Linked DNA regions of Homo sapiens. The protein of the gene in region 1 purifies or fractionates together with the protein of each later gene. This does not show direct contact. Each region holds a gene or a part of one and is shown in the gene's direction. Other genes may lie near its edges. The genes, in order: CCNL2, CCNY, ULBP3 and IRF2BP1.

What was found.
Region 2: the proteins of CCNL2 (region 1) and CCNY purify together in Homo sapiens (affinity purification with mass spectrometry; 3 studies listed by BioGRID and IntAct, with this or other methods). This does not show direct contact.
Region 3: the proteins of CCNL2 (region 1) and ULBP3 purify together in Homo sapiens (affinity purification with mass spectrometry; 3 studies listed by BioGRID and IntAct, with this or other methods). This does not show direct contact.
Region 4: the proteins of CCNL2 (region 1) and IRF2BP1 purify together in Homo sapiens (affinity purification with mass spectrometry; 3 studies listed by BioGRID and IntAct, with this or other methods). This does not show direct contact.

Annotation. Positions count from the first base shown.
Region 1 is NC_000001.11:1,389,329-1,396,348, reverse strand, and holds part of CCNL2 (cyclin-L2), read left to right. Parts: intron 1-811; coding exon of another isoform or gene 812-834; coding exon 835-955; intron 956-2,888; coding exon 2,889-2,953; intron 2,954-3,544; exon of another isoform or gene 3,545-3,545; coding exon of another isoform or gene 3,546-3,567; exon of another isoform or gene 3,568-4,759; coding exon of another isoform or gene 4,760-5,052; exon of another isoform or gene 5,053-5,483; coding exon 5,484-5,583; intron 5,584-5,785; coding exon 5,786-5,890; intron 5,891-5,977; coding exon 5,978-6,119; intron 6,120-7,020. UniProt on the Homo sapiens protein: Involved in pre-mRNA splicing. May induce cell death, possibly by acting on the transcription and RNA processing of apoptosis-related factors.
Region 2 is NC_000010.11:35,339,506-35,346,525, forward strand, and holds part of CCNY (cyclin-Y), read left to right. Parts: intron 1-7,020. UniProt on the Homo sapiens protein: Positive regulatory subunit of the cyclin-dependent kinases CDK14/PFTK1 and CDK16.
Region 3 is NC_000006.12:150,066,119-150,074,073, reverse strand, and holds the start of ULBP3 (UL16-binding protein 3 precursor), read left to right. Parts: upstream 1-4,952; 5' UTR 4,953-5,007; coding exon 5,008-5,095; intron 5,096-7,911; coding exon 7,912-7,955.
Region 4 is NC_000019.10:45,883,141-45,890,461, reverse strand, and holds IRF2BP1 (interferon regulatory factor 2-binding protein 1), read left to right. Parts: upstream 1-4,320; 5' UTR 4,321-4,687; coding exon 4,688-6,442; 3' UTR 6,443-6,854; downstream 6,855-7,321. UniProt on the Homo sapiens protein: Acts as a transcriptional corepressor in a IRF2-dependent manner; this repression is not mediated by histone deacetylase activities. May act as an E3 ligase towards JDP2, enhancing its polyubiquitination. Represses ATF2-dependent transcriptional activation.

The DNA of each region.
Region 1 (7,020 bases):
GTTATAGTGAGCCAAGAGCGCGCCACTGCACTCCAGCCTGGGCAACAGAGTGAGACTCCATCTCAAAAAAAGAAAAAACATGGCCTCATCGGCCTCCCAAAGTGCTGGGGTTACAGGTGTGAGCCACTGCACCCAGCCCTTTTTTTTTTTTTTTTTTTCTGAGACGGACTCTCACTGTGTCTCACCGTGTCACCCAGGCTGGAGTGCAGTGATGCGATCTCGGCTCACTGAAACCTCCGCCTCCTGGGTTCAAGTGAATCTCCTGCCTCAGCCTCCTGAGTAGCTGGGATTACAAGCACCCGCCACCACGCCCGGCTAATTTTTGCATTTTTTTAGTAGAGACAGGGTTTCACCATGTTGGTCAGACTGGTCTTGAACTCCTGAGCTCAGGCAGTCTGCCTGCCTCGCCTCCCAAAGTGCTGGGATTACAGGCAGAGCCACTGCACCTGGCCCATCTGTATTTAAATAATTGTGCTTTCATTGGTTCTGTGGTTATTGAACTGTGAATATGTACCTTCCTATCGTGAGTCACATAAAGTGCTTTAGCATTTGTGCCACGAGATCCTAAAACTTGCTATGTTCGGTCTATGCTTGTGCACCAGAAGCTGTTGATCTATAAGGAAAAGCAGGGAGGGATCGTTGGGAAGGGATGAGGAGGTTGGCACTGGGCTGTGGGGAGCGGTGTGCAGTTTTGTTCATCAGAGGATGTGGACTTCATAGCGATGTTGTGTTGTGGGGTTTGTGTTAGGTGCTCATAGTTGGAGGTAACGACGGGATCTCAGAAGCCTTGCTCTGCTTGACTGTGGTGCAGACCCTGTGCTCTCTCTCTGGCAGGAAGCCCGTGCCTCTACTACTGGATCAAGATTATGTTAATTTAAAGAACCAAATTATAAAGGCGGAAAGACGAGTTCTCAAAGAGTTGGGTTTCTGCGTCCATGTGAAGCATCCTCATAAGGTGGGTGTGCGGCTCCTGCCCTGCGAGCCCGCCTAGGCCGCTGCTCCTGCCTGGCCGCCTCTCTCCACCTCAGTGCAGTTGAAGGCTCTGAAGAGGACTGAGTGCATCCCTGACTTGGCTTTCCAGTTTCTATTTATAATCTCAAGAATAGTTCCTGACGTATTCGTCTTCTAGTGTCAGCTGTTTATTTTAGTAACACATTTTTAAGTGTTTTGGAAATGGTATTATTTAAGTTTGGGCTTTCAAAAATAGTGGTGAGTTTATAAATGTTGAATTTTAGTTTATGTTTTCCTTTCTCTACAGTTAATTTTTTTTTGTTTTCTTTTTTTTTGAGATGGAGTTTCGCTCTATCGCCAGGCTGGAGTGCAGTGGCATGGTGGCAGTGGCAGTGGAGGCACAACCTCCACCTCCCGGCTTCAAGCCATTCTCCTGCCTCAGCCTCCTGAGTAGCTGGCACTACAGGCACGTGCCACCACGCCGAGCTGATTTTTGTATTTTTAGTAGAGACGGGGTTTCACCATGTTGGCCAGAATGGTCTTCATCTCTTGCCCTCGTGATCCTCCCACCTTGGCCTCCCAAAGTGCTGGGATTACAGGCATAAGCCACTGTGCCTGGCCTTTTTTTTTTTTTTTTTTTTTTTTCTTGAGACGGAGTCTTACTCTGTCATGCAGGCTGGAGTGCAGTGGTGCAATCTTGGCTCACTGCAACCTCTGCCTCCCAGGTTCAAGTGATTCTTGTGCCTCAGCCTCCCAAGTAGCTGGGATTACAGGCATGCGCCACCACACCTGGGTAATTTTTGTATCTTTAGTAGAGATGGGGTTTCGTCATGTTGGCCGGGCTGGTCTCAAACTCCTGATCTCAGGTGATGCACCTGCCTCGGCCTCCCAAAGTTCTGGGATTACAAGTGTGAGCCACTGCACCCAGCCTCAACAGTTAATTTTCTACATTTGCTTTAGTGATAGCTTTACTTTCTCTTATGGAGAAATTAGGGGAATTCTGGCCCCTTTAGTCTGAAATGACTGGCGAGTTTTGCGGCATGTACTGACTGAGGACCATGGCCGTGACACGGTCCCTCACTCCCAGCGTTGTGGGTGCCTTCTGTGTCACATGGAAACAAAGCACTTGTTTTCCCAAAAAATTGTTTCCATCTTTGGTTCCATCTCCTTTTTATTGGTGGGTTTCCTCATCTGCTTGTTCGGCTTTCTGCCATCTGTTCAAATTATCCACAAATTGCCCACCACAGATTGAAGTGCTTTTTTTTTTTTTTTGGAGACGGAATCTCGCTCTGTTGTCCAGGCTGGAGTGCAATGGCGCAACCTCAGCTCATGCAGCCTCCGCCTCCTGGTTTCAAGCGATTCTCCTGCCTCAGCCTCCTGAGTACCTGGGATTACAGGCGTGCACCACCATGCCTGACTAATTTTGTATTTTTAGTAGAGACTGGGTTTCTCCATATTGGTCAGGCTGTTCTCGAACTCCTGACCTCAGGTGATCTGCCCGCCTCAGCCTCCCAAAGTGCTGGGATTATAGGCATGAGCCAGTGTGCCTGGCCTGAAGTGTTCTTCTCTGTTTGCTGAAAGTATGTTCATATTGTGTTTTGGTGAGTTGTTAACTGGGATACAGAGACGTGTAGGACAGGCCAACCTCACTGGTGGAAAGGCATTGAAGACTAGAATGAAACCAGCCCCATGAAGAACGAGGCCTGTGCCGTGGGTTGTGTGGCTGGGCTCACGGGCATGCGTCCTGCCTGGCTGCCAAGGCAGACAGCAGGTGCAATCGCAAAGCTCCCTCCAGCTGAGCCGTCCGCCAGACGTGTGGCCAGGAGCCACTCCTGGGATCTAGCTTGAGGCTCTTGTTTGCTGCATGGACACCCACAAGATCTGAATTCTGGGCTCTTAAGGTTCTTGGTAATAACTGCCTGACCCGTATCTTCCAGATAATCGTTATGTACCTTCAGGTGTTAGAGTGTGAGCGTAACCAACACCTGGTCCAGACCTCATGGTGAGTTGAGCTTCCTTGTTTTATGAGACCAGCAAGGGCAGTGCAGGAATGTGTTGACTTGAGGCACTTGGGCAGTGGGTAGGCAGCCCAGTGACTTGGTTGTGGGCTGGAGTTGTCCGAGTGCCCAGTGCTCCTGCTGTATAAATTCCAATCAGACTCCCAAAATGGGCACTGGCAGTCACGGTAGGTGGCCCGTCCCCTCCCTGCAAGCCTGGACTTCCTGTGTCCCCCACCCTGAAGAGAGCAGTCAGTGGGCTTCCTCTGGGAGCTGTTGACTTGGCGCAGGGGGACCTTTTCCTGGGGAGGGTGGAGGGACAGGCTAGTGCAGACTTGGTCTGTTTCTCCACTGACATTGCATCCCATGGGAGAGGGGCAGAGAAGGTTCTGGGGCCGATTTTAGCAATGCATGTGCTAGAAAGGAACCCTAAAGTGCAATGTAGTATTTGGGGGATTCTGGGGATTCTGGTGAATTTTTTCCCATGGAGTTAAGTCTGTAAGGGTCATATTTTTGCTGACTGAATTGTCTGGTGCTATGACATGTTTAATAGAGAACCTATTTTGACTTTTCTTTTCTGTACTCTTTCAATCAAAGGGTAGCCTCTGAGGGTAAGTGACTAAGACTTCTCCTCTGCTGTCCAAGCGCTTTGGTGCAGGGACAGCGGCATCTTCAGCCAATCCAGTGCAGGCTCTCCACCGAAGGCTGGCTCTAGACTGGTGGTACGCACATAGCATAGCCATGGCCGACTCCTGCTGTGGTTCTCTGACGATTGTGCTTCTTGTTAATCCTCTGTCGTGCTTTGGTAATCGTATTGATTAGAGTTGGTAACTGTCTTGACTTGAATTTTGTCCCTTTAAAACTGCTGTACCTGTATGATAAAGATGCAGTACCTTTCTCTTAAAAAAAAATGCTATGGAAAGCTGTGAGAATTGAAGAGACAAATTGGCTGTGTCAGTGTGGGGTTATGTCATGATTTCTAGAAGCCCTGAAGTTGCTCTTTTGAGCAGCTTTGCATGACACGCTCTGGTAAAAGGTGTGCATCTTTAAATTATTTCATGGATACTTTGAAAAATATTGTATCACTTCAAATACAGCAATAAGTTTATATGTTCTCAAGATTTCATTTGTTTTTAAGAATTTTAAGTTCGTGGATTAATATCACTACTTGAATACTGACAGTTGTTGATTAGACACCGAAAGGTTACTGATTGTTGAATGTATCTGTGTTAGAGCTGTGCACTGGCACGCTTGCATCAGGGGCTGGGGCCACACGGCCGCCACACAGATTCCCCCGTGATGCCTGGAGCTGCTTCCAGAGCCGGGTGTCTCCAAGAGGCACCTGTAGGACTTCCCATTTAGAAATCTCTTGAGTGGGTTTGTATGTTACCTTCTCCAAGGTTTATTTAGGACAGAGATATTGCTGGAAGGTCATGGGTCAGATTCCCTCACAACCCACCTCGTCTGCGGGTGCAGCCCCACTCCAAGGCTCCCCGTTATTGGGGTATGTGAGGAGCAGTAAATATAAAACCAGTTCAACTGTCCTCATGGAATCACCCTTTCTGTTTTTGCAGTATTCATAAAGCTAGTGTAAGGTCTGGTTTTAGTCTATTAAATCTTAGAGATCTAAAGGAAATGCTCAAAATGTAGCCAGGTTTTAAATGCTTTAACTTTTAAAAAATGTAAATTTTTGTATGTTTATAGCTTCTAAATATGAAAGTTAAAGAATGTACTGTGATGAAATGTTCAGTATTATGTTGCTTCTCAGTATCATGTTGCTTCTCAGTATTGTGTTGCTTCTGATTCTATGAATGTTCATTTTAAGACCCCTTGTTGAAATGGGACAGTTGGCAGCGGCTCTGATGAGCCCGAGAAGAGGCCTGCCCTTGGGTGCGGAGTCTCCCTCCGCACGATGCTCCCACGCGTCCAACTTGCACCCAAGGGGCTTTTCCCTCTTCCAAGTGGACTCCTTCAAGGAAGCTGCAGCTCGGTCAGCAGAGAAGGGGCCTGCCGCCAGCGCCCTGGAGGAAGAGGAAGAGGAACCCAAGAGGATGGCTTGTCTCCCAGCAGCCACACCGGCTTTGTGCTCAGCCAGTTCATTTGAGTTTGCATGTTTCTCTGCACTATGGATTTTGAGCATTTAGATTTCTTTAATCAAAAGCGTTTTAGTGACTCCAGTAGACATTTTCTTTCTGAGGCATCGTGCTTTGCATGAGAGCAGGCCAAGGTTGAGGGGAAAAGTAAAGTTAAAGTCGGTTCTCTTTCATAGCAACACGTATTGTCTGACATTCAGCCAGCTTTTTTTTTTTCTAATAATTTCTGTGCCTTTCTGTCCTGTATTTACTGTATTTAGAAAAAGCAGCTAGAATATTTCTCCATTAACTCTTGAGATTCACAGGACTGTCTAGCTCTGAGTCCTAGCAATAGACTCCTTAGAGGAGTAGTACGTTTATCTAGATTTTCTCTAGATAATGCAGGCGGAAGACCTGGGTTCCCGGGTGGGGCATTGCAGTTCTTCCTGTGTTTGGCTTCCAGGAATTACATGAACGACAGCCTTCGCACCGACGTCTTCGTGCGGTTCCAGCCAGAGAGCATCGCCTGTGCCTGCATTTATCTTGCTGCCCGGACGCTGGAGGTCAGTGTGTTGCTACTATGGAGAGATTCTAGTCTGATTTTTTTTTCTCCAGCCTCCAGTAAACTTTACTGTGTTATTCTTCAAATTACTCTAATCTGGGCCAAAGCATTTTCGTGACCAACAGGCTGTTTTTTAATTGTCCTGAGTCTTGCTGGCCGTGAAGTTGAGGAAAGTGTAATGATGATAGTGTTTGTTTTTACAGATCCCTTTGCCCAATCGTCCCCATTGGTTTCTTTTGTTTGGAGCAACTGAAGAAGAAATTCAGGAAATCTGCTTAAAGATCTTGCAGCTTTATGCTCGGAAAAAGGTTCTTCGGCATTTTTTCATGTAACGTATGCGTTTGTGTTTGGCCAGAAACACCTGGTTCTGAACGGACACCTTCTGGCTTTTGCAGGTTGATCTCACACACCTGGAGGGTGAAGTGGAAAAAAGAAAGCACGCTATCGAAGAGGCAAAGGCCCAAGCCCGGGGCCTGTTGCCTGGGGGCACACAGGTGCTGGATGGTACCTCGGGGTTCTCTCCTGCCCCCAAGCTGGGTGAGTCTGTTAGAGTGCAGGAATCCACTCCCCACAAAGGCAAAGACTGGTGACTCTCCCCCGCCTCCATTCTGGGGTATGTGCTCCTTCCAGACATTTTTTTTTTTTTTTTTTTTGAGACAGGGTCTCTGTCACCCAGGCTGGAGTATGGTGGTGTGATCGCAGCTCACTGCAGCTTCCAACTCCTGGATTCAAGTGATCCTCCCACCTCAGCTTTCTGCATAGCTAGGACTACAGGCACATGCCACCATGCTTGGCTAATTCTTTTTGTTTGAGACAGAGTCTTGCTCCAGCCCAGGCTGGAGTGCAGTGGCGCAATTTCCTCTCACTGCAAGCTCCGCCTCCTGAGTTCACACCATTCTCCTGCCTCAGCCTCCTGAGTAGCTGGGACTGCAGGTGGCCGCCACCACGCCTGGCTAATTTTTTGAATTTTTAGTAGAGACGGGGTTTCACCAGGTTAGCCAGGATGGTCTCGATCTCCTGACCTCGTGATCTGCCCACCTCAGCCTCCCAAAGTGCTGGGATTACAGGCGTGAGCCACCGTGCCCAGCTGTGCTTAGCTAATTCTTTATCTTTTTAGTTGAGTCTGGGTCTTGCTATGTTGGCCGGGCTGCTCTTGAATTTCCTGGCCTCAAGTGATTGTCCTGCCTCAGCGTCCCAGAGTGCTAGGAGCATAGGCACCTGGCCTTTCTGTTGATTAGCAGGGAGTATGACAGGTTGTCTGAAATGCTTTTGTTTATCCTGCTGCCCAGGTAGCTTGTCATCTGATGAAGGTGTTATAGTGTGGGGCCATAGATGATACACGTCATCAGACCTAGAGTTCAGTGTGATGCAAAGGGCCTGTCTGCAGTTCTTTTTTTTGAGATGGAGTCTCGCTCTGTCGTCCAGGCTGGAGTGCAGT
Region 2 (7,020 bases), on another chromosome or scaffold:
TGTTAGGTTATTAGTAAACATTTTAAAACTACATTTTAAGAATCATTGACTCTAGTATATATCAAAAGCTGAAGTACTCAAATACCATATTTTTTATGTCCTGAAAAACATCCCACCCAGCTGGTTTAGAAAGGTTTGAAGTTCATGGGTCTTCTATGATAGGTTAGTGTCTTTAAATCACAGAGATATGACATATGTATCCATGCTTTCTTCCCTTTGTCACCAGGCACATGAAGGGGTAATACTTGTCCTGTAGAATTTCAGTAATTTTAGTGTCTGGGAACTTAGGTGTCTATGGTGCTTAATGGCAACTTAATGTGTCTTTTTGCTCAGTTTATCTTAGTGTTAGGTTATTCATGTTTTTGAAATTGATATTGGACTCATGCTTTCCAGGTATTATTTCTTATAAAATCATTCAGAGATTGAGAAAAAACAGCAACACATAACAACAATAGTAATCTTCAGAACAATTCTTTAGGAAAATAAAAAAATGATAGTAATAATTGCAGCCTATGTATTACTTACTCTGTAGCAGCTGTCACCAGCTGCCGCTCTAAGTACTTGGATTCCATTCATTTACTTAGAACTCACAGTAACCCTATGGGTAATATTACCCTTACTTTAAGACAAAGAAATGAGTCACTGAGAGGAGAAATGACTTGTCCAAAGTCACACAGCCAATACATGGCAAATGGAAACTTTCCATTGTTGCTTGACTTAGCCATCAAACGTTAGCTAGTCTGGGGTTGCCTTCTGGGATAGGGTGTCTTGTCATTGCAGTCATATCCATACTTTCTCAAGGATAAACTTCTTCTGTCTGCAGCAGTTATTCAGTCCAGACTTCCAGGATTAGATTATTTCTGTGGGAGGAGAAAGGGAGGGAGGGACTAAAGAGAATTTAAAATGTGAGGAGACCAAATAAATCAGGATACTTGTAACAGCTGTACCATAGTGTCCTTGTAGGGTTTTACCTTAAAATGGTTGATGGCAACTTCATTCTTTTTTTTTTTTTTTTTTGAGATGGAGTTTTGCTCTGTCACCCAGGCTGGAGTGCAGTGGCATAATCTTGGTTCACTGCAACCTCCACCTCCCGGGTTCAAGCAGTTCTCCTGCCTCAGCGTCCCAAGTAGCTGGGATTACAGGCATGCGCCACCACGCCTGGCTAATTTTGTATTTTTAGTAGAGATGGGGTTTCTCCATATTTGTTATACTGGTCTCGAACTCCTGACCTCAAGTGATCTGCCCGCCTCAGTCTCCCAAAGTGCTGGGATTACAGGGGTGAGCCACTGCTCCTGGCCCACTCTTTTCATTTTTATAGTTTACCTGTCATCCTTGACAACTCACTTTCTCCCTCGTCCTGTATCATATCTGGTAGGAAAATGTGGCTCTCTGCCCTCAGAATATATCAGACTTTGACCACTCTCAAGACCTCTGCTGCTGCTCTTCTGGAGATTTAAGCAGCTGCCATCTCCCCCAGCCCACCTGGTCTCCCTGCTTCCACCCTTGCCTGCTCCAGTCTGTTCTCGACACAACAGCCATGGCTAAGATCCTTTAAAAAACTTGAACTTATTCCTTCACTCAAAAACGGCAGTGACTCGTTATTGCACAAGTAAAAGCCTTACAGTGGTCGCTGGGGCCCCTTGGGATCTGCCTGCCATCAGCTCACTCAGTCGCTTGCTCATTCCAGCCACATTGGCCTCCTTCCTTGCCCTTCCTGGAACATACCAGACACAAACTTCCACCCCGTTCTCTCCCTCTGCCTGAAGTGTCCTCCATGTGCTCTCTTGGCTGAGTCCCTTTATCACCTGCAGCCTTGGTTCAAGCCTGACCTTTTCAGGGAGGCCTTCCCAATCACCTTTAAACATCCTTTCTGCCGCCCACTGGCAATCCCAATGCATATTCCCTGCACTCCTGTTTCTTTATTCCTTAACACTTTATGATATACTATATAAGTATAAACATAAATACTAGCTACTAGCTACTAGCATGTAAGTTCCAATAGAACATTTATTGTTTGGTTCACTGATGTAACCAAGTGCCTAGAGTAGCACCTGATTCCTTGAAGATACTATAAATATTTGTTGAATGAATTTGTTGAGTGAAACCAACCATTGAAGGATGTGAATGAAAACATCATCGCGTATGTTTATTGGGTGAGGGGAAACAGGAGGCAAGGAGAATGAAGAGGACTTGTAATAATGAAAGTAGCGTGGATGTGAAACTTTTTGGCTTTGTAGTTTAACCTGAGAGGTAGCAGATAGGGTGAAGTACTGAAAATGAAACTTAAAGGTTTTAAAGCTTAAAAAGAAAAAAAGCATACCCAGGCTGAAAGGAAACCTGGCTAATGGGAATCTGTTTAATAATGTGGTATGTTTAGTCTTTTTTCCTTGTTTCTTTCAACGAATGACTTTAGCTGTGGCCTTACATCCTTAAGGATCAAATTGAGACTCAAATGCTCAATTAACCAAAAAATACTAGATGAACATCTGCAATTATGAACATAGTCACTTATGTTGATTTTCTTGTCTGAAACATGAAGTGTCTAATGGGATATAGGTACATGGTGTTTTGGCTGTCTACAGCCAGAGAAGCTAGAAGCCTCAGGGACTCATCCCAAGCAGCGGAGGGATAACTGGCAAAACTGCTTGCCGTTAGAAGAGTGGGGACACAGGGCAATTTGAAATCTAAGTGCCTGTAGGATGAGCTTGCATATTGCTCTTGGCTTCCTTGAGTCTCTACAATCTATTTAACATCACCTCTGCAGCACTCTTTCTTGAATCTTGGTCCCACATTAACATTACCAGCCCTGGTGGGCAGAACATACCGTGGACTTTCTTTCCAGGCTAAGACTTATCAGCCCTGCTGTCTGCAAGGTATGTGGAGACACCCCGACCAAGCATGTGACTTCATATTAGTTAGCAGTGTGGAGAAGTGCAGTTTAAAGATTTGTCAAGAGAGCCATTCTCCATAGCACTGACCATGGGTCCATGACCTGTCTCTGCTTACTTTTCATGTTTCTCTTTCACTTAGAATCAGGGAGTCGTTTGCTTCCACACACCCATTTTACAGGTGGGAAGACTGAATCTCAGAGAGGTGTAGTTTCTTGCCCAGGTCATGCAGATCATGGATGATGGTAGTAGAATTTACTTTGTTAATTTTCGGCCAACAACCGTGCTAATTACTTGACCTGTATTGTTTTTCTTAGTCTTCTTATCATTCTCCCCATTTTCTAGGTGAAGAAATTGAGCCTTAAAGGTTAAGGCATTTGCGGAAGGTTCCTCAGTTTGTTAGTGGCAGCTGGGGTTCGGTCTGCTGTCAGCTTGCCTCCATGCCTCAACTGCCCTGTGACAGCTAATTAGAGAATGATCCGTGTCTAGAATCTGAACCTCCTGATGGCCTGGCCCAGCCCACTTTGTTTCAAGAGATTCATAGTTATTGCCTATATGCTTTTGTCTAGCAATATTTTGTGTAAGGACTTTTACTTTCCTGCCTGCCTTTTTTTTTTTTTTTTTTTTAAGACAGGGTTTTACTCTCTCGCCCTGGCTGGAGTGCAGTGGCGCGATCTTGGCTCACTGCAACCTCTGCCTCCCAGGCTCAAGTAATTCTCCTGCCTCAGCCTCCCGAGTAGCTGAGATTACAGGTGCACGCCACTACTGCCCAGCTAATTTTTGTATTTTTAGTAGAGATGGGGTTTCACCATGTTGGCCAGGCTGGTCCATATGATCCACCCACCTTGGCCTCCCAAAATGCTGGGATTACAGGCATGAGCCACTGCGCCCAGTCTCCTGCCTGCTTTTTGAGAGTAATGAAAATTAAATAATTCCATGGAGTGGTAGATTTTCTCACCTTCTCACCCTCCTCTACAAAGCTGATGGTCTTTTTTTTTTTTTTTTTTTTTTTTGAAACGGAGTTTCGCTCTTATTGCCCAGGCTGGAGTGCAGTGATGCCATCTCGGCTCACTGCAACCTCCGCCTCCTGGGTTGAAGCAATTCCCCTGCCTCAGCCTCCTAAGTAACTGGGACTACAGGCACGTGCCACCACGTCCGGCTAATTTTTGTACTTTTAGTAGAGACGGGGTTTTGCCATGTTGGCCAGGCCGATCTCAAACTCCTGACCTCAGGTGATCTGCCTGCCTCTGCCTCCCAAAATGCTGGGATTATAGGTGTGAGCCACAGTCTCCGGCCTGATGGTCTTGCTTTTACATTTCTGGCTAGATGAAACTAATGCAAGGATTAAATTTATTTCTATCCAGCAAGGGGCAGAACCAAAAAATACCAAGAAGCAGGATATGTGTGTGGCTTTGAAATTCTGTTTTAATCACATAGGGTCAGAGATTTAGCTCCAAGTGTGTCACATTGGATTGACTTTGAGGAAACAGTGCTATTTTTCACAAGAGGGCTATTGACAGTATCATACTTGTCACACTTCAAAGTGTGAATCCTTTCATGATTCAACATTGGGCTGTGAGGGTAGGTCCCCAGCAATGACAGTTGATGTAAGTCCCTCATCCTTTCAGTATTATTTCCAGTTTATAGCTGGAAGAAGGGTGAGAGTTCACTTTCCCTGCAGCATTTCTCATCCTCTTCAGATGTTGAGTAGTTTGTTGCTTGGAGCCTTGGTCAGGAGACCATTTCTTCTCTGATTCTCAGCATTATTCTAGCCTGTCTTTCCTGAAGAAAGGAGAGGCTCAAGGAAGGTAAAGTCAGAGAAGGCTCTTCTCAGGGGATTTATAGGGTGTGCTCCCAGCTCTGTGAAGTATGGTGGAGGGCAAAGAGAGGAAGCCTTGTAATGGGAAGACCCGCATTCCAGATGAGGTTCTACTTTTACTGAGGGGCCTCCGTCCTGCTGAGCCTCACCTTCCTCTTCTGCTTAAAAAAAGTGCTTAAAAATACTGCCTTGCCTTGGGCTGGGCGCCGTGGCTCATGCCTGTAATCCCAGCACTTTGGGAGGCTGAGGCAGGCGGATCATGAGGTCAGGAGATCAAGACCATCCTGGCTAACATGGTGAAAACTGGTCTTTACTAGAAATACAAAAAAAATTTTTTTTTCAGTTGGTATACTTTATTTCTTTTTTACTTTTTAAATTATACTTTAAGTTTTAGGGTACATGTGCACAATGTGCAGGTTTATTACATATGTATACATGTGCCATGTTGGTGTGCTGCACCCATTAACTCGTCATTTAACATTAGGTATATCTCCTAATGCTATCCCTCCCCACTCCCCCCACCCGACAACAGGCCCCGGTGTGTGATGTTCCCCTTCCTGTGTCCATGTGTTCTCATTGTTCAATTCCCACCTATGAGTGAGAACATGCCGTGTTTGGTTTTTTGTCCGTGCGATAGTTTGCTGAGAATGATGGTTTCCAGCTTCATCCATGTCCCTACAAAGGACATGAACTCATCATTTTTTATGGCTGCATAGTATTCCCTGGTGTATACGTGCCACATCTTCTTAATGCAGTCTATCATTGTTGGACATTTGGGTTGGTTCCAAGTCTTTGCTATTGTGAATAGTGCCGCAATAAACATGCATGTGCATGTGTCTTTATAGCAGCATGATTTATAATCCTTTGGGTATATACCCAGTAATGGGATGGCTGGGCGAAATGGTATTTCTAGTTCTAGATCCCTGAGGAATCACCACACTGACTTCCACAATGGTTGAACTAGTTTACGTCCTACCAACAGTGTAAAAATGTTCCTATTTCTCCACATCCTCTCCAGCACCTGTTGTTTCCTGACTTTTTAATGATTGCCATTCTAACTGGTGTGAGATGGTATCTCATTATGGTTTTGATTTGCATTTTAAAAAATTAGCTGGGTGTGGTGGCGGGTGCCTGTGGTCCCAGCTACTCAGGAGGCTGAGGCAGGAGAATGGCGTGAACCCAGGAGGCGGAGCTTGCAGTGAACCGAGGTAGCGCCACTGCACTCTAGCCTGGGTGACAGTGAGACTCCATCTCAAAAAAAAAAAAAAAAACTGACTCGCCTTACACATTGAGGTAGTACTATGAGGATCCAAATGAGGCTAAAATGCTTAAAAAGCCACAAAGTACTAGATGAACTTATGTCATTATGAATGTGGTACTCATATTGATTTTCTTGTATTATATGTGAAGTGTGCTCCAGTATCTCCACCTAATTATGTTTGGACTGTCCATAGTTGGAGAAGCTGGAAGCCTAAAGAGCTTATCCTAACAAAGACATCAAAGCAGGCTTCAAGGCAGTCCCAGAGCATAACTGTAATTTTAGAGCTGGGTAGGGTAAGGTTATATAGAGCTGTCTGACCTTTGAGTGGGATGCTTGCTGGCTGTAGAATTTGGAATAGAAATACTATTTCTCAGATTCATTACTCTTCTGAGTTGCATCTTTCTGAAGTCAGTGTGATGCCACACAGGAGCAGTGGGATGAATATTTGAAGAAGCTTTCCCTGACTCCTGGGGTAATGGAACCCACCCAGGCTGTCTGCTAACTGTGTCCCCGGAACCACATTCCTAGGAATGTCAGCATGCACCCTTAGGTGTAAGCTGGAGCCAGGGCTTGCTTGCTTGCTTATTTATTTATTCAAAGAATAGGATTTTGAGGCATGCATAAATATGCTTTATTATATTAAAATACTGCTTTTTAATAAAGGGTAGTTGGTTACCTAAAATAATAAGATCAAGCGTTCCTCAGCAGGTTATTAGGGGCTGTTGTTCTCATTTCTTTTAGGAAAGGAATCTAACTGGCTAGACCCACAATTGCAGGGAGCTCAGGAGATACCCCACCCACCTTTTCTTTCTTGCTGTTGGCTCTGTGTGTTGCTGGTAGCTGTTGCTAGGCTCTCTGTCTCCCTTTACTTTTTCTAGGGGCTTCCTTTGCTATTTGCCAGCTTGGAAAGAAGGGTGTGCTAAAGCTAAAATTGAGCATGTCAGCCTGGCAAGTCACATTGGTGGATCCCACACATCAGCAAGATTTTGCCTGTAAAGTCTCTTGATGACTCTGGCAGAAGAGGTCATTTCAGGGGTTGGCCAACTCCAGAC
Region 3 (7,955 bases), on another chromosome or scaffold:
GAAGTTACCTCAATAGCGAGAGAAACACAGGAGATACGACAAGAGAACCGAGGAGGACAAGTGACTAAGGAATCTATTCCAGATTACTGTTATTTCACAACAAGGGGAAATGTGAAGTTAGGATCACAGAAACAAAGAAGTGTAGCTAAGAATAACCGAGAATTACAGCTAGGAAAGATATCAGGAAAATGGGGCTGGAGGTGGCACACGAAAGGGATAGGAAAACATGCTGAGACTTCTAAAATTAGGAATAAAACAAAACCAATAATACCAATAAATGTGACACATATTGGTATGAGTCATAGGTTAAGGGCAGCCACCCTGAGAAGAAAACTAGAATGTATAACTTTTAAACCAACAGAAAAAAAACCCTCAGTATACTAAATAGAACACAGTTACGGAGGGGAAATGCCAGCAATAAAAAACACAATAAATACATGTGCACCAGGCACAGTGGCTCACGCCTGTAATCCCTGCACTTTGGGAGGCCAAGGCAGGAGGATCGCTTGAGCTCAGGAGTTCAAGACCAGCCTGGGCAATATAGGCAGACCCCATCTCTACAGACAAATATAGAAAATTAGCCCAGTGGGTGGCGCATGCTTGTAGTCCTGGCTACTCGGAGGCTGAGGCAGTAAGATGGCCTGAGCCCAGGAGTTAGAGGCTGCAGTGAGCTATGACCACGCGGCTGCACTCCAACCTGGGCAACAGAGGAAGACCCCATATCTTAAAAAAAATAAATAGATAGGCTGGGCACGGTGGCTCATGCCTGTAATCCCAGCACTATGGGAGGCAGAGGTGGGTGGATCACAAGGTCAGGAGATTGAGACCATCCTGGCTAACAAGGTGAAACCTCGTCTCTACTAAAAATACAAAAAAAAAAAAAAAAAAAAAAAAAAAAACTAGCTGGGCGTGGTGGCGGGCGCCTATAGTCCCAGTTACTCGGGAGGCTGAAGCAGGAGAACGGTATGAACCCAGGAGGAGGAGCTTGCATCAAGCCGAGACCGTGCCACTGCACTACAGCCTGGGCGACAGAGAAAAAATAAATAAATAAAAATAAATAAATAATAAATAAAAAAGATGGCAGAGCTAAATCCTAAACAGTAGTAATTACAATAAAAGTGAACTACTAAACTTATCACATAAATCACTGAAACTCCCAGGTTGGATTTTAAAATATCAAATAATATACACTATTTTCAAAAGACAATGTTAAATGTAAAGATTAAAAATAAAACGTGCTGTATCTGCGAAGAAAGGCTACTTTTTAATTTTTTTTGTATTTGTTTCTTTTAGCGACTACAATATGCTTTATTGTTCTTAGAAAGGACTCAGGGTTTGGCTTTAAATCAGGCTGCACGCTTTTCATCAGTCTCGCATCGCTCTCCCCATGCCAAGCTGGCTCTAGCTAGCAATGTCGCATTAAATCCCAGGGCAACCTTCAGGAACTTCCAGAAGCCTCCCCTCTCCTGACCCCCTGCAGTCCAAGACCCCCATATTTGCCCACACCCCTGCTTAGGGTCCAGCCCTAGAACTCACTGCCCCGCCCCAACCTGCCCTGGACCAGCCTGGCAGCAGGAGCAGAGGCTGGAGGCAAACACCCAACTTCGCGCCAGCACCTGTGCCACTGGGGACCAGGAGCCCAGGGTGTGACACACCCAGAGGAAGCAGAGAGCCGCTGCGTGAGTCACCCTGGCCCTCAAGGCTGTCACAGCTCCAGTAGCCCTGCCCCGCCCACTTGCAACTCCAGGCCATGGGGCAGGAAATGCTTGAATCCTTGCTACCTCTCAGACCCCAACCCTTCTTTTCTCCTCTTTCCTCCTGGCCCGGTTATCTTTTCCCATTTCCATTCCCACTTTCAGACTCGTTCTTTCTTTGCTTAAAAGGCAAGTATTTCAGCCATGCGCGGTGGCTCACGCCTGTAATACCAGCACTTTGGGAGGCCAAGGCGGGCGGATCATGAGATCAGGAGTTCGAGACCAGCCTAGCCAACATAGTGAAACCCCATCTCGACTAAAAATACAAAAAACTAGCCGGGCATGGTGGGGATGCCTGTAATCCTAGCCACTCAGGAGGCTGAGGCAGGAAAATCGCTTGAACCCGGGAGGCGGAGGTTGCAGCGAGCCTAGATCACACCACTGCACACCAGCCCGGGCGATAGTATGAGACAACGTCTCAAAAAAAAAAAAAGGCAAGAAAAAGACAAGATTTTCCTGGCCCTGGTGCACTCTAGGCTCAGTCAAACCAACTGAAGACAGCAGTTTGCTGTCCGTCATCACACTATGTTTTCTAGAAGATTCTATCCTGATGAAGCACCCCCCAGACTGGTTGAAAACCAAAGTTACTCTTCCTTGGAAAATCTTTGTGGACACCCAGGTGGAGATTCAAATTTCCAAGTTGGGGCCAGGCGAAGTGGCTCACGCCTGTAATCCCAACACTTTGGGAGGCCGAGGCAGGCAGATCACCTGAGGCCGGGAGTTCGAGATCAGCCTGGCCAACACGGTGAGACCCTGTCTCTATTAAAATTGCAAAAATTAGCCGGGGGTGGTGGCAGGTGCCTCTAATCCCAGCTACTCGGGAGGCTGAGGGAAGAGAATCGCTTGAACCCGGGTGGCAGAGATTGTAGTGAGCTGAGATCGTCCCATTGCACTCCAGTCTGGGCGACAGAGTGAGACTGTCTCAAAAACAAACAAACCGGAAAACAACAAATAAAACCCAACAACTAAAAAAGGCAAAAAAAAAAAAAAATTACCAACCTCGATGCTGCCACCTTCAGGCCGCTGGGGGTTACAACCTCCGCTCCAGCTCCCCTCTGAACCTGTGCTATTCTTCTGAGTCCCATTCACTCCCACAACTGTCTCATTCATTCACTGGTTCACTCAGCTTCCAACCACCCTTACATCACGTCAGGCTCACCAGGTGATGGAGAGAAAAATCATCCTCTGTGGGTCTGAAAAACATGCCTGAGTCTTGATGGTGGGTCTTGTTTTCATTTCCTCCCCATCACAGCGCCCCCAGGGCCATGAAGAGGCCATGGCCTGGGCTCAGAGATCCAGCTCTCCTCAGGGTGGGCCTGGCAGTTGCTGACTTCAGGGAGAGCTGGAGGCCTCACAACTGAAATAGGAGACCTGCCCTGGGTCCTTAGCATGTGCAAGGACAGGGTTCCTTGTAGAATCTGCTCATTTCATCTGTGTTCATAGCATTTGTCATTTTCCACATGCAGACATCCATTCCTAGAAAGCTGAAGAAGCTTGCACAGGAATATTCAGCCACAATATCAGCTGACTTCCATATCTGAATGCATGATCTCTAGATCCCGGCCATTACAATAACATTTGGGCCACTTCTATCCCCATCCTGGGCAGGCCTGAGTCTGTTGGCCAGATGCCTGCAGCAGGGGTGAGTCAGGAGGGCCCAGGTGTGCACAAAAGCCCCTCCTCCTGTCCTGCTTGGGGCTCTCCTGCCAGCCTCCTTCTACCTTCCTCCTGTTCCCCCAGTCACTGGCCCAGGTCACCTGGCCTCGGGGTGGTGCTGCCAGGGCCTTCCCAGAGGCCTCCTCCCAGGACTAACCTGGGCTCCTGCCCCCAGCCCTGTACATGGGAGGCTCTTCTCACACACAGATCCTGGGACCCGCCAAGCTCTGCCCCTCCCAAATCTGAGAACTGCCCACCCTTGTGTGTCTGTTGTCCTCCAAACTACCCTCCACATGGCCCCTCCTGCACAGGGGCTCTAGTGCATCAGGCCAGAATCTTCTAGGCTCCTGTGTCCCTGCTCAGTCACAGAGGTGGCTGCCCTCCCATGACTCTGTCCTGAAGCAGAAACAGGCCCTGGGCTTTGTCCAGGCCTCCTCCTCTTTCCCACAGCCTCAGGACCCTCGGGATTGATGATCACCAGGTGCAGGTGATCCCAACATGAAGACTGTACGGAGTGGGAGGTCTGTGCCGATTTTTCTCATTCAATAGGGAATGGGCTGAGTGGCTGGGGCCTGAGTGGCACTCAAGATCTCTGTCCACTCCTCATCCCAGGCTAAAGCCCTCCCTTGCGGCCAAGGGCCACTGGGCCCATCACCTCCCTCTGGCTTCTGCCCACAGATCTAGATGTTTCCATGGTGACTGAGACGAGGATACACTCGGGTTGCCGCTTTGAGGATGGCTGCAGTCACCATCCAGGGACAGGGCAGAGATGCGCGTGCAGCCATGGATTTGCGTGTAGCTGGCCACAGATGGGTGTACAGCAAAGTGAGCCCCACGCATGCGTAGACCCTCCCTCGGCTTCTGCTCTCCATGGAAACACAATTGATCATTTGATCACTGATCACGGTAGGCCACTAGGGCTTTCTTTTCTTTCTTTTTTTTCCCAGAAGTCATAAAGGGATATAGAATATACTTTATTCTATATATATTCTATATATTCCTCATGCTTTTAGTGGAGAGGCAAAGAAGGTCTGCTCCGGACTGGGAAGCAGCTGCGCCCTGGACGGAGAGGGGCGGGGACTCCTTGGCGCAGGCTGAAGGAGGGCAGGTGTCGCTGGCGGAGGCAGTGACGGGGGGACACAGCCGCCACTGGATATCCCTGTGCAAGTTTCTTCGCTTTCCTGTGCATCAGTGCTTACATTGGGGTAATAATAAATGGTGTGTTAAAAAATTAAATGAGGCGGTCAAGAAGGAATCGTGTCCTGGCCCGCGCGGAGCCTGGGGTGGAGGGTAAGGGTTGGCCAGAGGGGGCCGCTGTCAGGCCACGAGCCCGGGGCGGGACGAAGCGGAGCCACAGCAGGCATAGGCTCCCCGGGTCCCAGCCTGGGGTGGGGCGGGGAAGGGCGGGACGGGGCGGGATAGGGCGGAGCATCCCTCCAAACGTGGGCAGGCGTAGGCTCCCCTGGATCCCGGGGCGGGACGGGACCGGACGGGGCCGAGCACACTCAATCACTAGCTGGCATGCGAGGGCCGAAGTGATTCATACGCTGGTCTCCACATCGACTGCGCCTTGTGTCCCGGGCGCTCCTGGTCTACAATGGCAGCGGCCGCCAGCCCCGCGATCCTTCCGCGCCTCGCGATTCTTCCGTACCTGCTATTCGACTGGTCCGGGACGGGGCGGGCCGGTGAGTTCGGGGATGGAGCCTAAGCGGGGCGGGGGCCAAACCTGGGGGGCTGTGGACTGCAGCGGGTTTCAGAGGAGGGAAGCCTTCTAGAAGGACCGGCGCGATCTCCCCGGACTGCCCCCACGCTCAGTTCCGATTCGCTGCTCTTTTTCGCCAGGTCCGCTTCCTGCGGCTGCTGCTTGCCCTGCAGAGCAGGAGGGGGGTCAAAGAAGGCGAAAAAAGAACCGCAGGAGGGTGGAGGGGCCAAAAAGCTGCAGAGGGCGAGGTGGGGAGGGGATCCCTGGTGCAACCCCGCAGCCCCACTCGTCCTCGGGAAGGAGAAACCAGAGCCCCCGGAACCCGAGCTGGGGTCAAGACATGGGTGACGCCAGCGTCATATAGAATAGTCACTAAGCAGACAGGAGTCAGCAAACCCTTTCTAGAAAGGAAAGGCTGAAGGCACTTTGGTCCTTGCTGGCCGTGAGTTCTCTGTCTCTGTGTCAAGTCCCGTCCCTTTGTAGAGCAACAGCAGGCAATGGCAACCTGCAAGTAAAAGAGAAACCTGAAATGGACCCTGTCCTAGGTTGCAGACTCCAGATGAGGGCACATGCTGTGTCCTGGCAATTGCTGCCCCATCCCCTAGGGTGTCATCTCTAAGTTGTGTAAGTTGAAGAGTCACAAGTGTGTCCTACCCTGCCTGTGGCTTCTGGGAGGTGTGGATGTGATGAATGTGAGGGGGAGTCCCATGGTTCGGGGCCTACTGCTCCCCTCCTTTGTTGCTGAGTAGCATTAACGGTCCCCAGGGGCCATTCAGGGACCCTCCCTGAAGCCTCAGGTGTGACCTGAGGGTGGGGGGGTGTAGCCATGTGGTGTCCTGGGGATCAGAGCCAACTGCTTGTGCAGCTTCTTGGTTCCCTGTGGCCCTGCTCCTGCCCATCCCAGGAGACCCACCTGTGTCTTCTCACTGTGGGGCCTATCTTCCTAATGACCTAAAGGGTGAGGAGCACACCCTGTGATGGGCAGCTCTGAGGCTGTGTGGTCACTGCCCTCCCATAGCTGGAGGCCCATCTCCACAGGGGCCCAGGACCACAGCAGGAGCCACTTTTAAATGAGGGGATTTCACTGCTGTGAGTGGCACAGCTTTGCTTCTGAGCACTAGGGGACCCTGTTGGATTCTGTGGTTGGGAATAGCCATGAAATCCACATAGCACCTTTTCCAACCACACATGCTTCTGGGATCTTAGGGAGTCCAGGGTCAAATAGCTGTAGTGGCAGGTCCAGCCACACCCCTCATCACAGAGTGTGTATGGCTGCATCCCAGCTATAAGAGCAGAGTTGAGTAGTGACAGGGGAGGTCATATGACCAGCACAAACTATAATAGTTACTACATTAACTACAAACACTATCCATTCCCGGTAGAAATCCAGGAAATGTGAAATTACCATTGAATGGGTCTATGAACCCAGCACATCCCTCTAAGCTGGACCTGACACAGAAGTCCATCTGTTACTTTGCCCCAAATGCACCTCATGAGTAACAGGGGAGCAAGTTAATGCTTCACATCCCTGGGAAGAGCTCGGATCACACACTGTGTCCACTAGGAGTGTCTGAGTATTTGCTGTTTCATGGTGTACAGTTACCAGAGTGACTACCCATCTGGCTCTGTGGGGGAGGCTGAAGGAGTCATTGCAATTGCTGTGGGGTTGAAGGAGCCCACCAGGGGCTCTGGGCTCTCCTTCTAGTAATGGACTCTGCGTCTGAGATGTGGCTCAGTTCTCAAAGCTGGGCGAGGGAGCTCAGTTATTTCCCGGGGTGACAACTTTCAGCCTCCTGGTCATCCATCCTTGCATTTTGTCTTTGTGGTAATTATTTAAATCTAGTAGTATCCGGGTGGAGTCTCCATCTCTTTTGGATCTTGGACCCTTTTGTTCTATGAGCCATGGGCATAGCTTTGTAAGACTGAGGACCCCAGCTAGCATTGTGACTTCTCTAATTATTTCCATCATTGCACCCTCCTTCCTGCTGACAGTTGACGGCCTCCACTTGAGATCTCTTATTTCAGGATTTTCCATCCCCATTACTACTGGGAGCCCATTTCAGGAAGAGCATCTCCTACCCCTGACCCTGGGCTTCAGCAACAGGCATCCCTGAGCTTCTTGACAGTCTGCTGCCTTCTCCTGGGGCCTTCTTTATATGCTAGGTAAACAGGAGTCTTCCAGGCTTCCCTTGAGCACAGAGGGTGAACATTGTTCTGGATTTTCATACTGCAGTCACTCTGGCATGGGCACTTCTCTTAGTATTTTGTTCCTTCCTGTACAACCTGCCACGTAAGACCTGGGTTTTCTGTTTCATGCGGTGTGGGTCATTCCTTTTTCCAAGGTTCCAAGGGCAACCTACTAGCAGCTGACCACATTCCAGGGAACTTACCATGTCTTGTTACCCATAATAAATGAACTCATCCTTATCCAATGTTAACTACATCGTACCCACTGCACCACGCTCCAACATCCTCAGGGTGCCCTCCCACACTCTCCCGCCTCTTGCAGTCCACCTGGGCTGCTCCTGCAGATCCTGCCATCTAAGTCCTTCTTCCTGTAGTGGGCCTGCCACCTCCCTGGCAGGGTCCTGTGCTGACGGATGTGAGTATAGGCCTGGGCAGAGTGGGGAGATAGACATGTTAGCGACCCATGGTTCCTCCACAGGCAGAGACCACCGTCCAGGAAGAGAAATCCATGCTCTGCCAGCCCAGCCCTTCAGGAAACCCTCTTGCTGTCACAGTGTTTGGGGTCTTTCCCCCACCCCAACACTCTCTGGTGTTTTTTTTTTTTTTCCTTAGACGCTCACTCTCTCTGGTATAACTTCACCATCATTCATTTGCCC
Region 4 (7,321 bases), on another chromosome or scaffold:
CTCAGTAATGGGCCCCCCCAACCCCTTTCTCTGGTACAGTGCTGTCTGCCTGGCTGCCTCCCTTAACCCTGACTTCTAAGCCATCAATTTCATGTTATTTATTATTGCCCTATGTGGGGTGGGGAGGGAACCTCTCGGGTCTGCACATCTCCCCTTCCCTAACAGTTCCTGTTCTTGACTTGAAGAGAATTGACCCGTGGGGGACTCCCCACCTCCCCAACCCAGACTTTGGAGCGGGTGGGAGTTGTAAGACAAATCAAAATACGGATGACAAAGAGGATATAGCCGTGTATACCCCAGGGAGAGGAGGCGCCGAGTTCTGATGGGAGAGGTACAGGTTGGGTTCTCTGCCTACCATTGCTGTCTCTGACTTCCAGAGCTCAACCCCCTCCTTTCTCCCAGTGGTGACAAGATATCAATAAACTTATTTTTAATACAATTACTTGAGGCTCTGTCTGAGACAGGCCTGGGGGACCAGCACCTACACCTGCCCCGCCCCCTCCACAGGCAGGCAATTGGGAGGCTGGTGGTTTTCCAGCTTTTTTTTTTTTTTAATTCTTAAAGCCATCAAGTCTTGTGTTTACATGAAATCTTATTCCTACTCTTCCTTTAGATACCAGTCTAAATGTCAACTCCAGGAGAAAGTCCTAGATTCCTTCCCCAAGGCTAACGTGGGTTTGCCTCTTAGAGTCTCTTTCAGTGTCCTGTGGTTCTTTTTCTTTTTCTTTTCCTTTCTTTTCTTTTCTTTCCGTTTTTTTGAGATAGGATCTCGTTCTGTTGCCCCAGCTGGAGTGCAGTGGCATGATCACAACTCACTGTAGCCTCGATCTCCCAGGCTGAAGCAATCCTTCTGCCTCAGCCTCCCAAGTAGCTGGGACCACAGGCATGTGCCACCATGCTCAGCTAATTGTTTTATTTTTCTAGAGATGGGGTTTTCTATGATGTCCAGGCTGATCTGGAACTCATGGGCTCAGGCAGTCCTCCCACCTCGGCCTCCCAAAGTGCTAGGATTACAAGCATGAGCCACCACACACAGCTGGGTTCTTTTTCATAGTGACTCTAAATGAACACAGGCCTTTATCTATTTAAGGCACATTTGCCCATAATGTCATGAAGGCAGGAACTGGTTCTTTTACTCTGCTGCAGGGCCAGGTAACAAAGTAGATAATCACCACCACTCTGGACTCAAGACGTGGCTCAAGTACTGGTGCTGCCCTGGCCAACTGTGTAACCATTGGCTTCCAGTGTCCTCATCTGTAGAATGGACATAAAGATGTCAGAGTCTTTCTTCCTATAATTAGATTATACTTTTCTTTTTTTTTTTTCTTTTTTTGAGGTAGAGTCTCCCTCTGTCGCCCAGGCTGGAGTGCAGTGGCGCGGTCTTGGCTCACTGCAACTTCTGCCTCTCGGGTTCAAGTGATTCTTCTGCCTCAGCCTCCCAAGTAGCCGGGACTACAGGCGTGTGCCACTACACCTGGCCAATTTTTGTATTTTTACTTATTTAGTTAGTTTTTTGTTTTTTTGTTGTTGTTTTTTGGTTTTTTTTGAGACGGAGTCTTGCATCTGTCCCCCAGGCTGGAGGTGCAGTGGTGTGAACTCATCTCCTGGGTTCATGGAATTCTCCTGCCTCAGCCTCCTGAGTAGCTGGGATTACAGGTGTGCGCCACCACACCTGGCTAATTTTTGTACTTTTTAGTAGAGATGGGGGTTTCACCGTGTTGGCCAGGCTGATCTCGAACCCCTGACCTCAAGTGATAGGGCTCCCAAAGTACTGGGATTATAGATGTGAGCCACTGCCACTGTCCGGCCTAATTTTATTTATTTATTTTTTTTTTATTTTTATTTTTTGAGATGGAGTCTCACTCTGTCGCCCAGGCTGGAGTGCAGTGGCTCGATCTTGGCTCACTGCAAGCTCCACCTTCCGGGTTCACACCATTCTCCTGCCTCAGCCTCCCGAGTAGCTGGGACTACAGGCGCCCACCACCACACCTGGCTAATTTTTTGTATTTTTAGTAGAGACGGGGTTTCACCGTGTTAGCCAGGATGGTCTCAATCTCCTGACTTTGTGATCTGCCTGCCTCGGCCTCCCAAAGTGCTGGGATTACAGGCGTGAGCCACCGCGCCCGGCCCCCTAATTTTTTAATTTTTAGTAGAGACAAGGTTTCACCATGTTGGCCAGTCTGGTCTCAAACTTCTGACCTCAAGTGATCCGCCCTCCTCGGCCTCCCAAAGTGCTGGAATTACAGGCATGAGCCACTATGGCCAGGAAAGCTTTTCCTGACACACATTCCCCACCGCAGTCATCACAAATTTTAGTTCATCATTTGAGTAAATTTACTATCTGCCTCCATCACCAGGCTGGGGCTTCTCAGGGGCAAGGCTTAAAGCCTGTCTCAGTCACTGCTATGTCCCCAGCATTGCCCAGCATGGAAGAGGGGTTGAATATTTGAATAACTGTCCAGCTTAAAAACAACTTCCATTTGTGGCACTTATTTTCTGTGCCAGGCACCAAGCTAAGCATTTATATGCATGTTTGCATTCAATCTGAAGGTACCCAAATAAAAGGAGACTGGAGGGGGTCTCCATTTTTTCCAAGAAGTTTAGAAACTGGCCCAAGGCCACAGCTGGTCAGAGGCCAATCCAGTCCACCTGAAGGCTGAATCTGGCCAGAAGCCTTAACTCCCATTAGTGTTTCGTAAATAATAGCCCAAAGGCAACTTTAAGTGACATATTAATGTCCTCTTGAATGAGTCGATAGTTTTCACTAATTTTTTTTAAGGTAACCACAGTACATGAAACCCATGATTGTGAACGTATTACCTAGGATGAGGCAAAAATAGATAAATCTTTTTATTTTTATTTATTTTTTTGAGACAGGATCTTGCTCTGTTGCCCAGGCTGGAGTGCAGTGACGCAATCATGGTTCACTGTAGCCTGTTATCTCCAGGCTCAAGCAATCCTCCCACTTCAGCCTGATAAATCTTTTTTTTAAGGGAGAAAAGTGTTCAAATACAGGTAGTAGACAAAATTGTGAAACCATTTTAAAATTGTGAGGTCTGGGTAACAGAATCAGAGCTGCTGCGGTTCCAGTGGGACGGGAGGAGAAGGGACAAGCAGCCCCTCACTAGACAAAACCAGGGCCAACTGGTACGTCATTCAAATATTTTTGAGCACCTAACACGGACCCAGGCCTAGAGAAAGGGGCTGTTGTGGGTTGGAACCTGGAGACCCGCCTCCGCCCTTCCCCAAAGACAGCCTCGTCCAGTTCCCAATGCCTGGGAAAGAAGAAGGGTCCTCACAGCCTGATTGGGCCTTCCAGGTAGTGAGCGCTCAAGGTTGGGGAAAGGTTGGTCTGGTGTTTGCCCTTCCCCAGCAACTCCCTCCTCTTGCCCGTCACTTCTTAACCCCTTACTCTTCCCTCAAACTGGGGAGCAACAGAAGATAAGGGTCCCCCAAACGCCACGCTCCGAATGCACGTAAAGAGCCCCCAGAAAAGTGGGGGGGCGGGGGGTAGCCGGGAAAGTAGCGTGAATCTGGAAGGCCTCCCCAAACCTCCCAGAGGGCGGAAGTGCGTCACTATGTCCGACCCGCAGTGCATTTTGGGAATTGTAGTGAAGCGGGTGGGGGACGCCGAGCCCCCGATGGTGTAACCCTTTAGAGACCAGAGCGCGCGGGCAGAGCTGGGACAGGGTTAGAGGGCGGCCAGTCGCCCCACTCTTTTAGCAGAGAAACAACTGAGACAAGGCTCTGGCTCGGAAGCCCTTAGTCCTCTCCCTTCTCTGGCTGTGGCGGGCCCCAGAAGCATATATCTAGGATTCCGGGGGGAGGACGAAGTGCCAGGTGGCCACCCCCACCCCCACCTAGTTGCCAGCTTCCCGTCCCTGCTCTGAAGCCAATCAGGGCTTCTCCGCCCCGCCCCAGAAGCTGCTACTTTCCTAATCCGTCATTGGCCCACCTTTGCTGGGCGGGGAAACTGAGGTTCAGAGAGGGCAAGACATTTTGCCTAAAGCTGCACAGCAAATCCGAGCAGAAGTTGGAAGCCCGGAAGCCTGTCCACCCACCCCCACAATTTCTGAATCCGGAGTAGCTCTGATCATTTGTATTGCATCCTCGCCTACCACCTTTGTGTCCCAGCATCTTGCGGCGCGCTGAACTCCGGCCCCACGGAGAAGGTTGTAAGGTTTGCGCCGGCAGAGGCGACAACCCCCCCAGCCCGCGTCTGCCCGCCGTTCCCTTTAAGAGCCGGCCCCGGCGGGACTACGTTTCCCAGAAGGCTTTGCAGGCGTGTTATGTAACTTTCCCTGCGAAGCGGCCTCTGGGGCAGAAGAAGGAGGTGGAGGCGGCGGCGGCCGTTGCAGCGGCGGCGGCGAGAGCGGCGGGAGCCCGAGGCGGCGGCGCTCGCGGCCCATCGTGGGGCCCGAGCTGTGCGCCTCGGCTCGGAGCCCGGACCGGGCGGGGGCGCCGACGTGCCTCAGCCTGCCTTCGCGAGGGAGGCGGGAGTGAGCAGAAAGGCTTAGGGCCCAGGGGGCGGGGAAGGGGGGCCGGGCCTGGATCCGGCGGGGAGGCCGAGCCGGAGGCCGGACCGTGGCTCGCGCTGTCCCCGGGACGCGGATCGAACGTTGGCGGCGCGGATCGCACGTCGGCGGCCGGTGGAACGCGGGAGCTGGGCGGCGCGCGGACTGGGGCCATGGCGTCTGTGCAGGCGTCCCGCCGCCAGTGGTGCTACCTGTGCGACCTGCCCAAGATGCCGTGGGCCATGGTGTGGGACTTCAGCGAGGCCGTGTGTCGCGGCTGCGTGAACTTCGAGGGCGCGGACCGCATCGAACTGCTCATCGATGCCGCCCGCCAGCTCAAGCGCAGCCACGTGCTCCCCGAGGGCCGCTCGCCCGGGCCCCCGGCCCTTAAGCACCCGGCCACCAAGGACCTGGCGGCGGCAGCCGCACAGGGGCCCCAGCTGCCGCCCCCGCAGGCCCAGCCCCAGCCGTCAGGGACCGGCGGCGGCGTGTCGGGCCAGGACCGCTATGACAGGGCCACATCATCAGGCCGCCTCCCCCTGCCCTCGCCCGCCCTGGAGTACACTCTGGGGTCCCGCCTGGCCAATGGGCTGGGCCGTGAGGAGGCCGTGGCTGAGGGGGCGCGAAGGGCCTTGCTTGGCTCCATGCCTGGCTTGATGCCCCCTGGGCTGCTGGCAGCTGCAGTGTCTGGCCTGGGAAGCCGAGGCCTGACGCTGGCACCCGGCTTGAGTCCTGCCCGTCCCCTCTTCGGCTCCGATTTCGAGAAAGAGAAGCAGCAGAGGAATGCGGACTGTCTGGCAGAACTGAACGAGGCCATGCGAGGCCGGGCAGAGGAATGGCACGGGCGCCCCAAAGCAGTGCGGGAACAGCTACTGGCGCTGTCCGCCTGCGCCCCGTTCAATGTGCGCTTCAAGAAGGATCACGGGCTGGTGGGGCGAGTGTTCGCCTTCGATGCTACTGCCCGTCCTCCAGGATACGAGTTCGAGCTGAAGCTCTTCACCGAATACCCCTGTGGTTCCGGCAATGTGTACGCCGGCGTCCTGGCAGTGGCTCGCCAGATGTTCCACGATGCTCTGCGGGAGCCGGGCAAGGCACTGGCTTCTTCGGGCTTCAAGTACCTCGAATATGAACGCCGGCATGGATCAGGAGAATGGCGGCAGCTGGGCGAGCTGCTTACCGACGGCGTCCGCAGCTTCCGCGAGCCAGCTCCCGCGGAGGCCCTGCCCCAGCAGTACCCAGAGCCGGCCCCTGCGGCTCTCTGTGGCCCACCCCCGCGAGCCCCATCCCGGAACCTGGCGCCCACGCCGCGCCGTCGCAAGGCATCCCCCGAGCCGGAGGGCGAGGCGGCTGGGAAGATGACCACCGAGGAGCAGCAGCAACGGCACTGGGTGGCACCCGGCGGCCCGTACTCCGCTGAGACCCCTGGTGTGCCCTCGCCCATTGCCGCCCTGAAGAATGTGGCCGAAGCCCTGGGCCACTCACCCAAGGACCCTGGCGGAGGCGGGGGGCCTGTGCGTGCAGGGGGCGCCAGCCCTGCAGCCTCCTCCACGGCCCAGCCGCCAACCCAGCATCGCCTTGTGGCCCGCAACGGCGAAGCAGAAGTCAGTCCCACAGCGGGGGCCGAAGCTGTCAGCGGGGGTGGCAGCGGCACTGGGGCGACCCCTGGGGCCCCCCTGTGCTGTACCCTGTGCAGGGAGCGGCTAGAAGACACCCACTTCGTCCAGTGCCCCTCGGTGCCCGGACACAAGTTCTGCTTTCCCTGCTCCCGGGAGTTCATCAAGGCGCAGGGCCCGGCCGGGGAGGTGTACTGCCCGAGCGGAGACAAGTGCCCGCTGGTCGGCTCCTCCGTGCCCTGGGCCTTCATGCAGGGCGAGATCGCCACCATCCTTGCTGGAGACATCAAAGTTAAGAAAGAACGGGACCCCTAGGCTACCACTGCCTCCAGGCTACTGCCCTCTGCCCCTTTGCCACCCACCGCTGCCGCGGATAAATTATTCCCTCCCCGACCCAGCCCAGTGCCACCTCTATCTGTGTACATACTCCCTTCTTCCACCCAGATGGGTCCCCTGGGGTAGATGCATTGTGGGTGGGGGGAGAAAGCTTGTGGCTCCTGTCCGAGGGGGTGTTTGGGGTCCCTTGGCCCCTCCAGTTTCCCTCTGTCCTCCTTGGCTTGGCTTTGCTGCTGCTTGTAGTTGGGGGAGAGGTGCCCCCCTCCTCCTTGAGAAGGGACCTCCTGAAAACTCGCTCTTTATAAACGAGGCAAAAGCATTTAATTCCCACCCCCCCACCCCCCGCTCCCTTCTGCTCCTTCAATAAACCGAAAGATGGGTTTTTTTTTTCCTTCTTGGTCCCTTAGTTGTGTGAGATGCTGCGCCCCCTTTGGGACTGAACTGGTCCTGCGAGGGCGAGGACGTTGCGCGGTAGCCTCCAGGTGGCGCCCTGCACCCAGGCGGTCCCGCCGGCCGACCTTCAACAAGTGCGACCCACTGGTCACGTTTCAGCCATCGGCCCGTTTTCCAGATAAAAGTACTGAGGCTCAGAGAGGGGATGGCTCCTGCAGGGGAGCCACAGACAGGCTTGGGAGTAGATTACCCTTCTGTAGCTGACCCATCCCCTATCTCTACCTGGAAGGTGGAGGACTCAGCGCCTACGTGGGGAGGGGAAAGAGGCAGCGGGAGGCTTCCTAGAAGACATGGGCAGTGGGTTCTTGCCGGGTAGAAGGGAGAATTTAGGGTAGACTGCTAGAGGGACTGCCCGAGGAAAGAGGAAATTTACCTCCACGGGGTAAACTAACAGGATGCCTAGAA